2 separate regions of the Homo sapiens genome follow, and region 1 is linked to region 2. Evidence: fine-mapped expression QTL. A gene starts in region 2. The other region holds a variant in brackets. All regions are shown on one strand. Distances are between the middles of the regions.

Evidence for each region. PIP is the estimated chance that this variant, and not a neighbour inherited with it, causes the effect.
Region 1: its variant is the best candidate, but not a certain one, in a credible set for the expression of SLC9C2 in pituitary (GTEx, PIP 0.54).

The regions. Positions count from the first base shown.
Region 1 is chr1:173,675,166-173,679,565 of GRCh38, forward strand. The region is part of intron 2 of LOC105371619 (a long non-coding RNA gene); the gene reads left to right. It also overlaps a transcript of ANKRD45 not described here. Among named protein-coding and RNA genes, the nearest start is that of ANKRD45, 7.5 kb to the left of the region's middle. The variant G/A (reference allele first, on the strand shown) is at 2,469.
Region 2 is chr1:173,600,693-173,605,092 of GRCh38, forward strand. SLC9C2 (solute carrier family 9 member C2 (putative)) reads right to left here and starts at 2,380. Exons shown (of 28, transcript NM_178527.4): 1 at 2,059-2,380; 2 at 958-1,163. The coding sequence starts at 1,084.

The DNA.
Region 1 (4,400 bases), 74 kb after region 2:
ATTTTCCTCTAAAGTTTAAGTTATTTAGCTTCAGTTCGCAGGGCTTTAAAAAAAAGTATAGCTTAGTTTTCAGTGACTCCAAATTAGGAAAAATGGAGAAAAAAGAAGGAAAAAAAATTGAAAACATTATTTTGCAGGCATGTAGCCAAGAAAAATTAGAATTCAGGCCAGTCACGGTGGCTCATGTCTGTAATCCCAGCACTTTGGGAGGCCGAGGCAGGTGGATCACCTGAGGTCAGGAGTCTGAGACCAGCTTGGCCAACATGGCAAAACCCCGTATCTACTAAACATACAAAAAACTAGCTAGGCATGCTGGCAGGTGCCTGTAATCCCAGCTACTTAGGAGGCTGAGGCAGGAGAATTGCTTGAACCCAGGGGGTAGAGGTTGCTGTGAGCCAAGATCATGTGACTACACTCCAGCCTGGGGAACAGAGGGAGACTCTGTCTCAAAAAGAAAAAAGAAAAAATAGAATTAGAATTCAGTCCAAACTGTAGAAAATAATAAAAATTGAAAAACAATAGGCAAGACTAGAATCTAACAACGGGTGTACTATAGTTTTTTAAACATAATTTTTCTTTATCCAGTTTCCCATTTTTATTAAAGACAAATCATGGTAAGACTGATTTGCTTTATTACACTTCACCTGATTATTTGTATACAATGTATCAAGAATAATTTTATTTTACATAGGCATTTAAATTGGCTTTGATGGAACTTTAGTCCATAGAAGGAATCTCAGATATGACTTTTTTAAAGCCAAGCCCAGCCATGGATTTGTACCATCAAATACCTATGAGTTGTGAATTCCTCTCCTCTCAATGTTCCAAGATAAACTTGGGGCTCTTGGGTCTGTCAGAAAGTGACATTCTTTACCTACCACAGGTCAGGAACCCTGTAAAGGGACTGTGTAGAAAAAGGTACGAGGCCAATTTTTCCAAGGGGCTTTTATTGGCTCCATAAGTCAAGTTTGATTCCTTAAATGAAAGCACACCATTTTAGTCAAAGCCTTGGTAAAATAACCAGTTTCTCCAATTGTGTCCTGTTAAAAATGAAGAAAGATTCTTATTGCACTTATGCAAATAATTGTATTGTCATAAGAATACTCACAAATAGTTTCCAAATTCTGTAGAAATCAGGTAGACAGAAACACATATGCTCCAACTTTTGTTCATAGGAGTACACTTAACTGTTAAAAGCTGTAAATAGCTTAAAAGTTTTCTTGACTCTGAAAAACAAAGGATCAGCAACGTTTTAAACAAAAAGTTAAAAAGATTACTTTAAACTTCTATTAGTTTAGTCCCTGCGGTTAATTCCTGTTCTGCTTGATAGTCATAAACATTTCAGCTCTTCATGAGTCCTGAAAGTTTTTCCTCTGTTCAAATGTTACAATCTCCAAAGTAATCAGAAACCTGCATTCAAGGGCACCTGTTAGAGTTTATAGCTGATTATAAAACCACCTTTTAAAGAGGACCAAAATAAGACAACAATCATTCATGGATGACAAAAAGTTTTAGGGCAGCCATAAAGATACAATTGACAAGGAAATTTGTTACCTTATGGCACACAATAATTTACCATAAAAATTATAATTATTACTGATAACATACACTAATTCATATTAGAATTATAGGAGTTTTCCACCTGGGTGACAGGGTGAGACTCCATCTCAAAAAAAAAAAAAAAAAAAGAATTATAGGAGTTTCCCATAATTTTTGAACACATGCCAATAACATCTTTATACAAATACAGCCCAAAGAAAACCAAACACCATTTCATGTTTGACAATGCTTCCTATATAATTTTTATACCAAATAAGCCAAATATGTCATTTTTGGACTTTAAGGAACCGGGAATATCTTAAAGGATTAATTAGGTCAGAAAAAGACATAATTTATAATTTGATTTTGGAAAGTTTGTCAAATATCAAAACTTTAAAACACTTGATATTACAAAATAGGATCACAGGTCATTGTAAAATAAGTCATTCATTTAACCAAAGTGATAACTGAAGGATTTTAAAAAAAAAAAGGTGCAAAACTTTTATTTTGAGAGAGGAAACAATTTTCCAAACAATAAACCCTAATAAAAACAACATGAAGTCAATTAAATTTGTTTTTCAAATTTTTATAAATATATAAAATTTTAATCTTGATCATAAGCTATAACTTCCATAAGCCTTTTATAATCTTTATTAATGTTTTGGTTAATGCTTAAAAAACAAACCATATTAATCTGACACAGGGGCTCATATGCTGGTCTTGCATCAGTGTGCCATTGATATTAATGGTTAATTTATAGAGAAACTGTACTTATTTTATGTCTTAAAATGGGCCCTTACAATCTCACACACCCACCTCTTCCTCAATAGTCCCTGGACCTTGAGGAGTTGAATGGTGTTAATTTCTGGCCCTCTGTCTCAGGAATGCAGTTTATTTTGATTGGCATCCTCTATGGGGCCTGAAGATGA[G/A]GATTTAACTGCTGTCAGTGTTTAAGACTTAGCAGGGCTTTGTGTCCATTTTAGACCCAGGAGTCAAATCCCTGTAACTTAGTGTTACAAGTACTTTAAAAGCACATACAGAAAGATACACGGATGTAATAACCTTAATTTTAAAAAAAAACAATTATCAGGTTTTTTTCCTAAGCAAAGTAAAACTTAATAATAATGGCATAGGAATTATTTCAATAAGACGTAAAATCTGTGAGGCCAGTTACCAAAAGGCAAAAGAAAAGACCTTCTGCAGTGTACAGGATATTATGTTGGAAGAAAACATTTCCTTTAGACCTTTAAGAAAATATTGTTAGCACCAGGCCACAACAAACAGAACTGTGGGGAAAAATAACTTAACTGAGCTGAACATGAGTTGAAAGAGAGCTTTATTATTTCATACCTTTTAAAGGGGGAGAAAAAAACAAAAATGGTGAAACCAAAAAAAGTCCAGGACAACACAGATTCACAGTCAAATACTACCAGACGTACAAAGAGGAACTGGTACCATTCCTTCTGAAACTATTCCAAACAATAGAAAATAGAATCCTCCCTAACTCATTTTATGAGCATCATCCTGATACAAAAACCTGGCAGAGACAAAACAAAAAAAGAAAATTTTAGGCCAATATCCCTGATGAACATCGATGCAAAAATCCTCAATAAAGTACTGGCAAAGCGAATGAAGCAGCACATCAGAAAGCTTATCTACCATGATCAAGTCAGCTTTATCCCTGGGATGCAAGCCTGGTTCAACATACGCAAATCATTAAACAGAATCCATCACATAAACAGAACCAATGACAAAACCCACATGATTATCTCAATAGAGATAAAAATGGCATGCAACAAAATTCAACAGCACTTTATGCTAAAAACTCTCAATAAACTAGGTGTTGATGGAAGGTATCTCAAAATAATAAGAGCTATTTATGACAAACCTACAGCCAATATCATACTGAATGGTCAAAAACTGGAAGCATTCCCTTTGAAAACTGGTGCAAGACAAAACTGGCACACACCATTTCAACATAGTATTGGAAGTTCTGGCCAGGGCAATCAGGCAAGAGAAAGAAATAAAGTGTATTCAATTAGAAAAAGAGGGAGTCAAATTGTCTCTGTTTGCAGATGACATGATTGTATATTTAGAAAACCCAACTATATCAGCCCCAAATCTCCTTAACCTGATAAGCAACTTCAGCAAAGTCTCAGGATACAAAGTCAATGTGCAAAAATCACAAGCATTTCTATACATCAATAACAGAGAGCCAAATCATGAGTGAACTTGCATTCACTATTGCTACAAAGAAAATAAAATACGTAGGAATCAAAATTACAACAGGTGTGAAGGACCTCTTCAAGGAGAACTACAAACCACTGCTCAACAAAATAAGAGGACACAAACAAATGGAAAAACATTCCATGCTCATAGATAGAAAGAATCAATATCGTGAAAATGGCCATACTGCCCAAAGTAATTTATAGATTCAATGCTATCCCCATCAAGCTACCATTGACTTTCTTCACAGAATTGGAAAAAACTACTTTAAAGTTCATATGGAACCAAAAAACAGCCCACATAGCCAAGACAGTCCTAAGCAAAAAGAACAAAGCTGGAAGCATCATGCTACCTGACTTCAAACTATACTACAAGGCTACAGTAAGCAAAACAGCATGGTACTGGTACCAGAACAGATATATAGACCAATGGAACAGAACAGAGGCCTCAGAAATAACACCACACATCTACAACCATCTGATCTTTGACAAACCTGACAAAAACAAGAAATGGGGAAAGGATCCCTTATTTAATAAACGGTGTTGGGAAAACTGGCTAGCCATATGCAGAAAGCTGAAACTGGATCCCTTCCTTACACCTTATGCAAAAATTAACTCAAGATGGATTAAGACTTA
Region 2 (4,400 bases):
ATGTTTTTTACACTCTTTCTGCAATGCTCTTTACTACTGGAGCGTTTGTCTCTATAAAGGATATAGAGCTAGTCCATGGTCATCAGCAACTTGTGATATCAAAAGTGACCAAGGTCATTAGTGAGTATATTAAAGATTCCCAAAGAAAGCAATTTCACTCTTTGATACAATGGGTAAAATTGAAGGAGTTTATACATATTTGCTTCTGTATAGTATTCCTAGTTCCAGAAAGGATTTTAAAGCAGCTATTTTTCCTTTTTCCTAATCCCTAGTGTTGAATTGTGGACTAAAGCATCTGTGTGTTGAATATGTTACTTGATCTGCATGAATATCATTCTCTATACCTGTTGAATTCTTAATCATTGTTTAAGAGGTCCTTATTTGTGAAGCCTTTCCTAATTTCCTTCTTGGGGTTGGGGTGGGTTATTTATCTTCCCTGAAGAGAGATTACACCAAAAGCCATAATAAAATGGACAAAATGAATGACATCAATTATGTAAATCATGAATTGTATGCCTGGGCTCTATTTGTGTGTTTGCTCGCATTGTCCTCCCCTCATCTCAGATATTTTGGTCAGGTTAGGTCTGGCCAGGCAGGCAGTGTACAGCTCTTCCTCCTCCTTGTGAGCAGAGAATCTTGACGACAACTTTATAGTTATACTTAACACACTGCATAGTAATTATGTGTTTGCCAATCTCTCCCATGAGAGGGCTTCTTGAAGTTAAGTTATTCTTCTTACATGTCTACCACACTACCATGCTCAGCAAATGTCACTGAATACAGGAATATAGAATAGACACTACTTATAATTAAATGAAGCGAGATTGACAGTATTCACTCATGTCTTATCGTTTCAATGGGCCCCTTCTTTTGATGTTATGTAGTTGTGATGGCTTTCTGCATTGACAAAAGGTTCACAGGGCAGAGGAAAGATGAGTTTCAAAAACAACCACCTACCTCCCAAAACAACAATGAAGCATACAAGCGTTGTGAAATGTTTCTCTTCAACAAGGTAGTCAGCTGGCTGCCCGCAGAGTAAATCAGGTCTGTTACTTTCATTTTGTGCCCAGAAGTAAGAACTCATTTTTGCTGCTGCTTTTCCCCAGACCTAACTTGATGGAGTGGTTTGGTTATTATTGACACTTTCACTTCTGCATGCTAACCTGTATAGCATGCAAAAAGAACATGAGACCTACCAAGATCCAATTCATCCATACCATTTCTACCTAAGATTGTGCCACACTCAGATCTGAACATGTCTCTTCTTGTCACAGGGCACACATTAATACCTCTTGTCCTACCCCTTGCTCCAAGAACATTTTATAGGAACACTAACAGCAGTGTTAGTGTTTACTCCCTGTACTGTTACATGTATATGGGAGAGGGGGTGCATTGATAGGTGCACTTACCATTGTAATGATATAGTAATGTGCTTGCTTTCCCCATTGGACAGTGAGTTTCTCAAAGGCCAGGGCCCGAACTTTCCTTAAGGCTGTGCACATAGCATGTGGCACGAGATAGGCTGTCCAAAAATATTTGATGGGCTGAACTATTTGAGGGGGAAGGAGCATGGATAAATGTTATGCTCCCCCTTCTCTGTTGGTATAAATCATTCTGGAATTCCATTTTACCACTCCAGCCCTAATATATCTTTTTCTTCTCTCAGCACCCTTCCAATAAAAGATGGCAAATGGGAAACAAAGTCAAAGTTGAGTCACACCAGTTAAGGTTGGGGGTGAGGATAAGGGTGAATAACCTGAAAATAAAGGAAAAGACCAAGGTTTGATCATATGATGCCTTTGAGTGAATTAGAAAAAGGCCCCCTTCCTCAGAGCAATGAAGCCTGTCAACAAGGCACATGGCTTGGCATGTGACTACCAGGCTGGATTTCAGCCCCAGTATCTCACCTCAGCTGGTGCTCTGTGTAGGATGTAACCTGTGCAAATCTATGCAGTGGTCCTGAGAAAGATTTGTTCTGTTTTATTTTTCCTTGCAGCTAGCCTTAATCTAAAAATCCTAGAGGTTCCTCAAGTATCTCCAATAATATTTAAGGCTTACCTTTGGTCCTTTGTTTTGCAGGTCTACAGGTCACAATGATTCTGGTGTGAAGCAGAGGATGGGCCAGAAAGAGATTCAAAATGCTACATCTTCAAATCACTTCACCTGTCCCTCCAGTAGCCCTTCAGGTCCTTGGCATCTTCAACTCCTGCTATCCTCACATGTAATGACCCTCAAATTAAGTTCTACAAATTACCCAGATCAGAGATATGTTCCTTAAAGATTAAGCTGCTTTAAAGTTGAAATTGAGATGAAGGCTCTCAAAATCCCAAAGAACAATGCACAGTTATGCGTCTGTTTGCCAGGGACAGTACTACCAACTGATATCACACCAAAATCCATTTCCATGCCTACTTCTCATTGGTTTCTTGCCAGCCTGCTTTCGTTCTGATTGGCTGCCTACATTATCCCCACCCCCAATCCAGAAGAAGCCAAGTGATCTAGTTCTTGGGAAGCTTTCATTTTTTAACACTCAAGTTACGTAAGTACCCACAACTGTTTTAACTGATTTTTTTTTTTTTTGCTGACATTGTAGAATGAATTCATGAATTTTACAAGTATAATCAAAGACAACCAAAAATTTTTACTTTTCCCTTCAAAAGCTAAGTGTAGTGTAGCTCCCCTGTAGTCTAAGTTAGAGAAGAATACTAACAGCGTGTTTTTCCTTCTGTGCTCAGCAAGCCTTATCTGTACTTGCTAGTTTCACATTCCTTGAGGCTCAGGGAGTTCCTGTTTCACCTCCCTAGCGCAGCTGCAAAGTTACAAGGTTAATACAGAAACATGGTTTCCCAGGGATGTGGAACACGTAGCATAGATAAATGTAAAAGACTGATCAACTGCCTTTGTTCTCGCTCTTGTAAGTACGCTTCCTGCATCACGTAGCTCCTGGCCACTGACTGCTTAAAAGGTGGCTGCTTTCTTTGTCCAGGGCTCAGACTTTCCTGGACGCTAGTCCTACTGAGCCAGGTGATCACCTTTTAATAAAGACCTTTCCTGAACTCACTCTGTTCGGTCTCTCCCATCTTTGATTGTCCCAAAACAACATAATAGCTGAAATAGTCAAAGATATTAATGTAGACAGAATCTCCTTCTATATTTTTGATATATACTCTATATTTCTTATGCCAACACCATCTGGCTCAGCCCTAACCCTCTTCAACACAGTCTTGTCTCCTCTCTAATTCTTTTTCAGTCATACTGTTTCATTTTATTTTTCTACCTCTCCTTCCTTTTCAATGTTTCTCACTCCCATTTTCCTAACTCCTATCCATCATTGGTTTCCAGTCCTCAATTTGAAGAAACAATGTTACCCATTCTTCATGGGAGGACAAATGCATCCCAAATTCCATGATGCCTAACTTATATACTTCTTGCCTCAAATATAATTACTAAAAACAAATACAGTATAAATATTAAACAAATGAACAATAATCATCAATTGGTGGGTTACTTTCAAGGAAGAGTTGTTTTGTGACAAATTCTACTCTCTCATTCCTATACCACATTCACCAAGGTTGCTGCACATCATCTTCTTGAGGGCACCAAGGAGAACATCACAGCAGTAAGATTACACCTTCACTATGTATCAAGAAACCTCTGGCAAGTGAGTCTCAATTCCTACTTCAGACTAAACACAATTCTAATCAACAGCTCTATGACTGTGACAAGCAACATTGGTGCCCACATACTAGCTCCTAAAATATTCTTTATGACTTCCTTTTTTGTACAAACTGATGTGGTTCTTTTAAGCCACTGAGCTCATCCCTACTATAATGCCAAGGACTATGTTAAAAAGTAATTGGCTTATTCACAGGCCCTCTCCTAAGAGACCCATTCCTTACTCTTCCCTCTTCTGCCTTTACTTAACTCACCTCATTACCAAGTTCACTACCCTCCCGTTCGGATCTTCACCTTATCTATACTGGCTGTCACCTTGATTCCTCTCAAAATTAAGTTTGACTCTCTCCTTAGTCAAACTGATCTCAGCACTACTCAGTTTGAGTAATGCCCTTCCAGGTTCTGCCTAGTTCCCATCCTACTGCTGTCCCCTCAGGCTCACTCGGTTCACCTAAGCCCTGCAGCTAAGACTCCTGTAGGTTGAATTTAAGTTTCGAAGTTCAGATTCCCCATGGCCTTTAGAAAAATCCTCATACTTCAGGAAAAGTTGGAGAAAATCCATAAAGTCAGTTAGCTTACACATAGTTCTGAAAGCTAAAGAAAGCAATAACTAAAATATAGAGGTGATCAAATTTTTTATCCTTTCCCATGGAGCTTTTTTTTTAAAAAAAAGCAATAATAAAGTTATATTTCACCATTTTTTATAAATCCAGCTGAAGGAGATT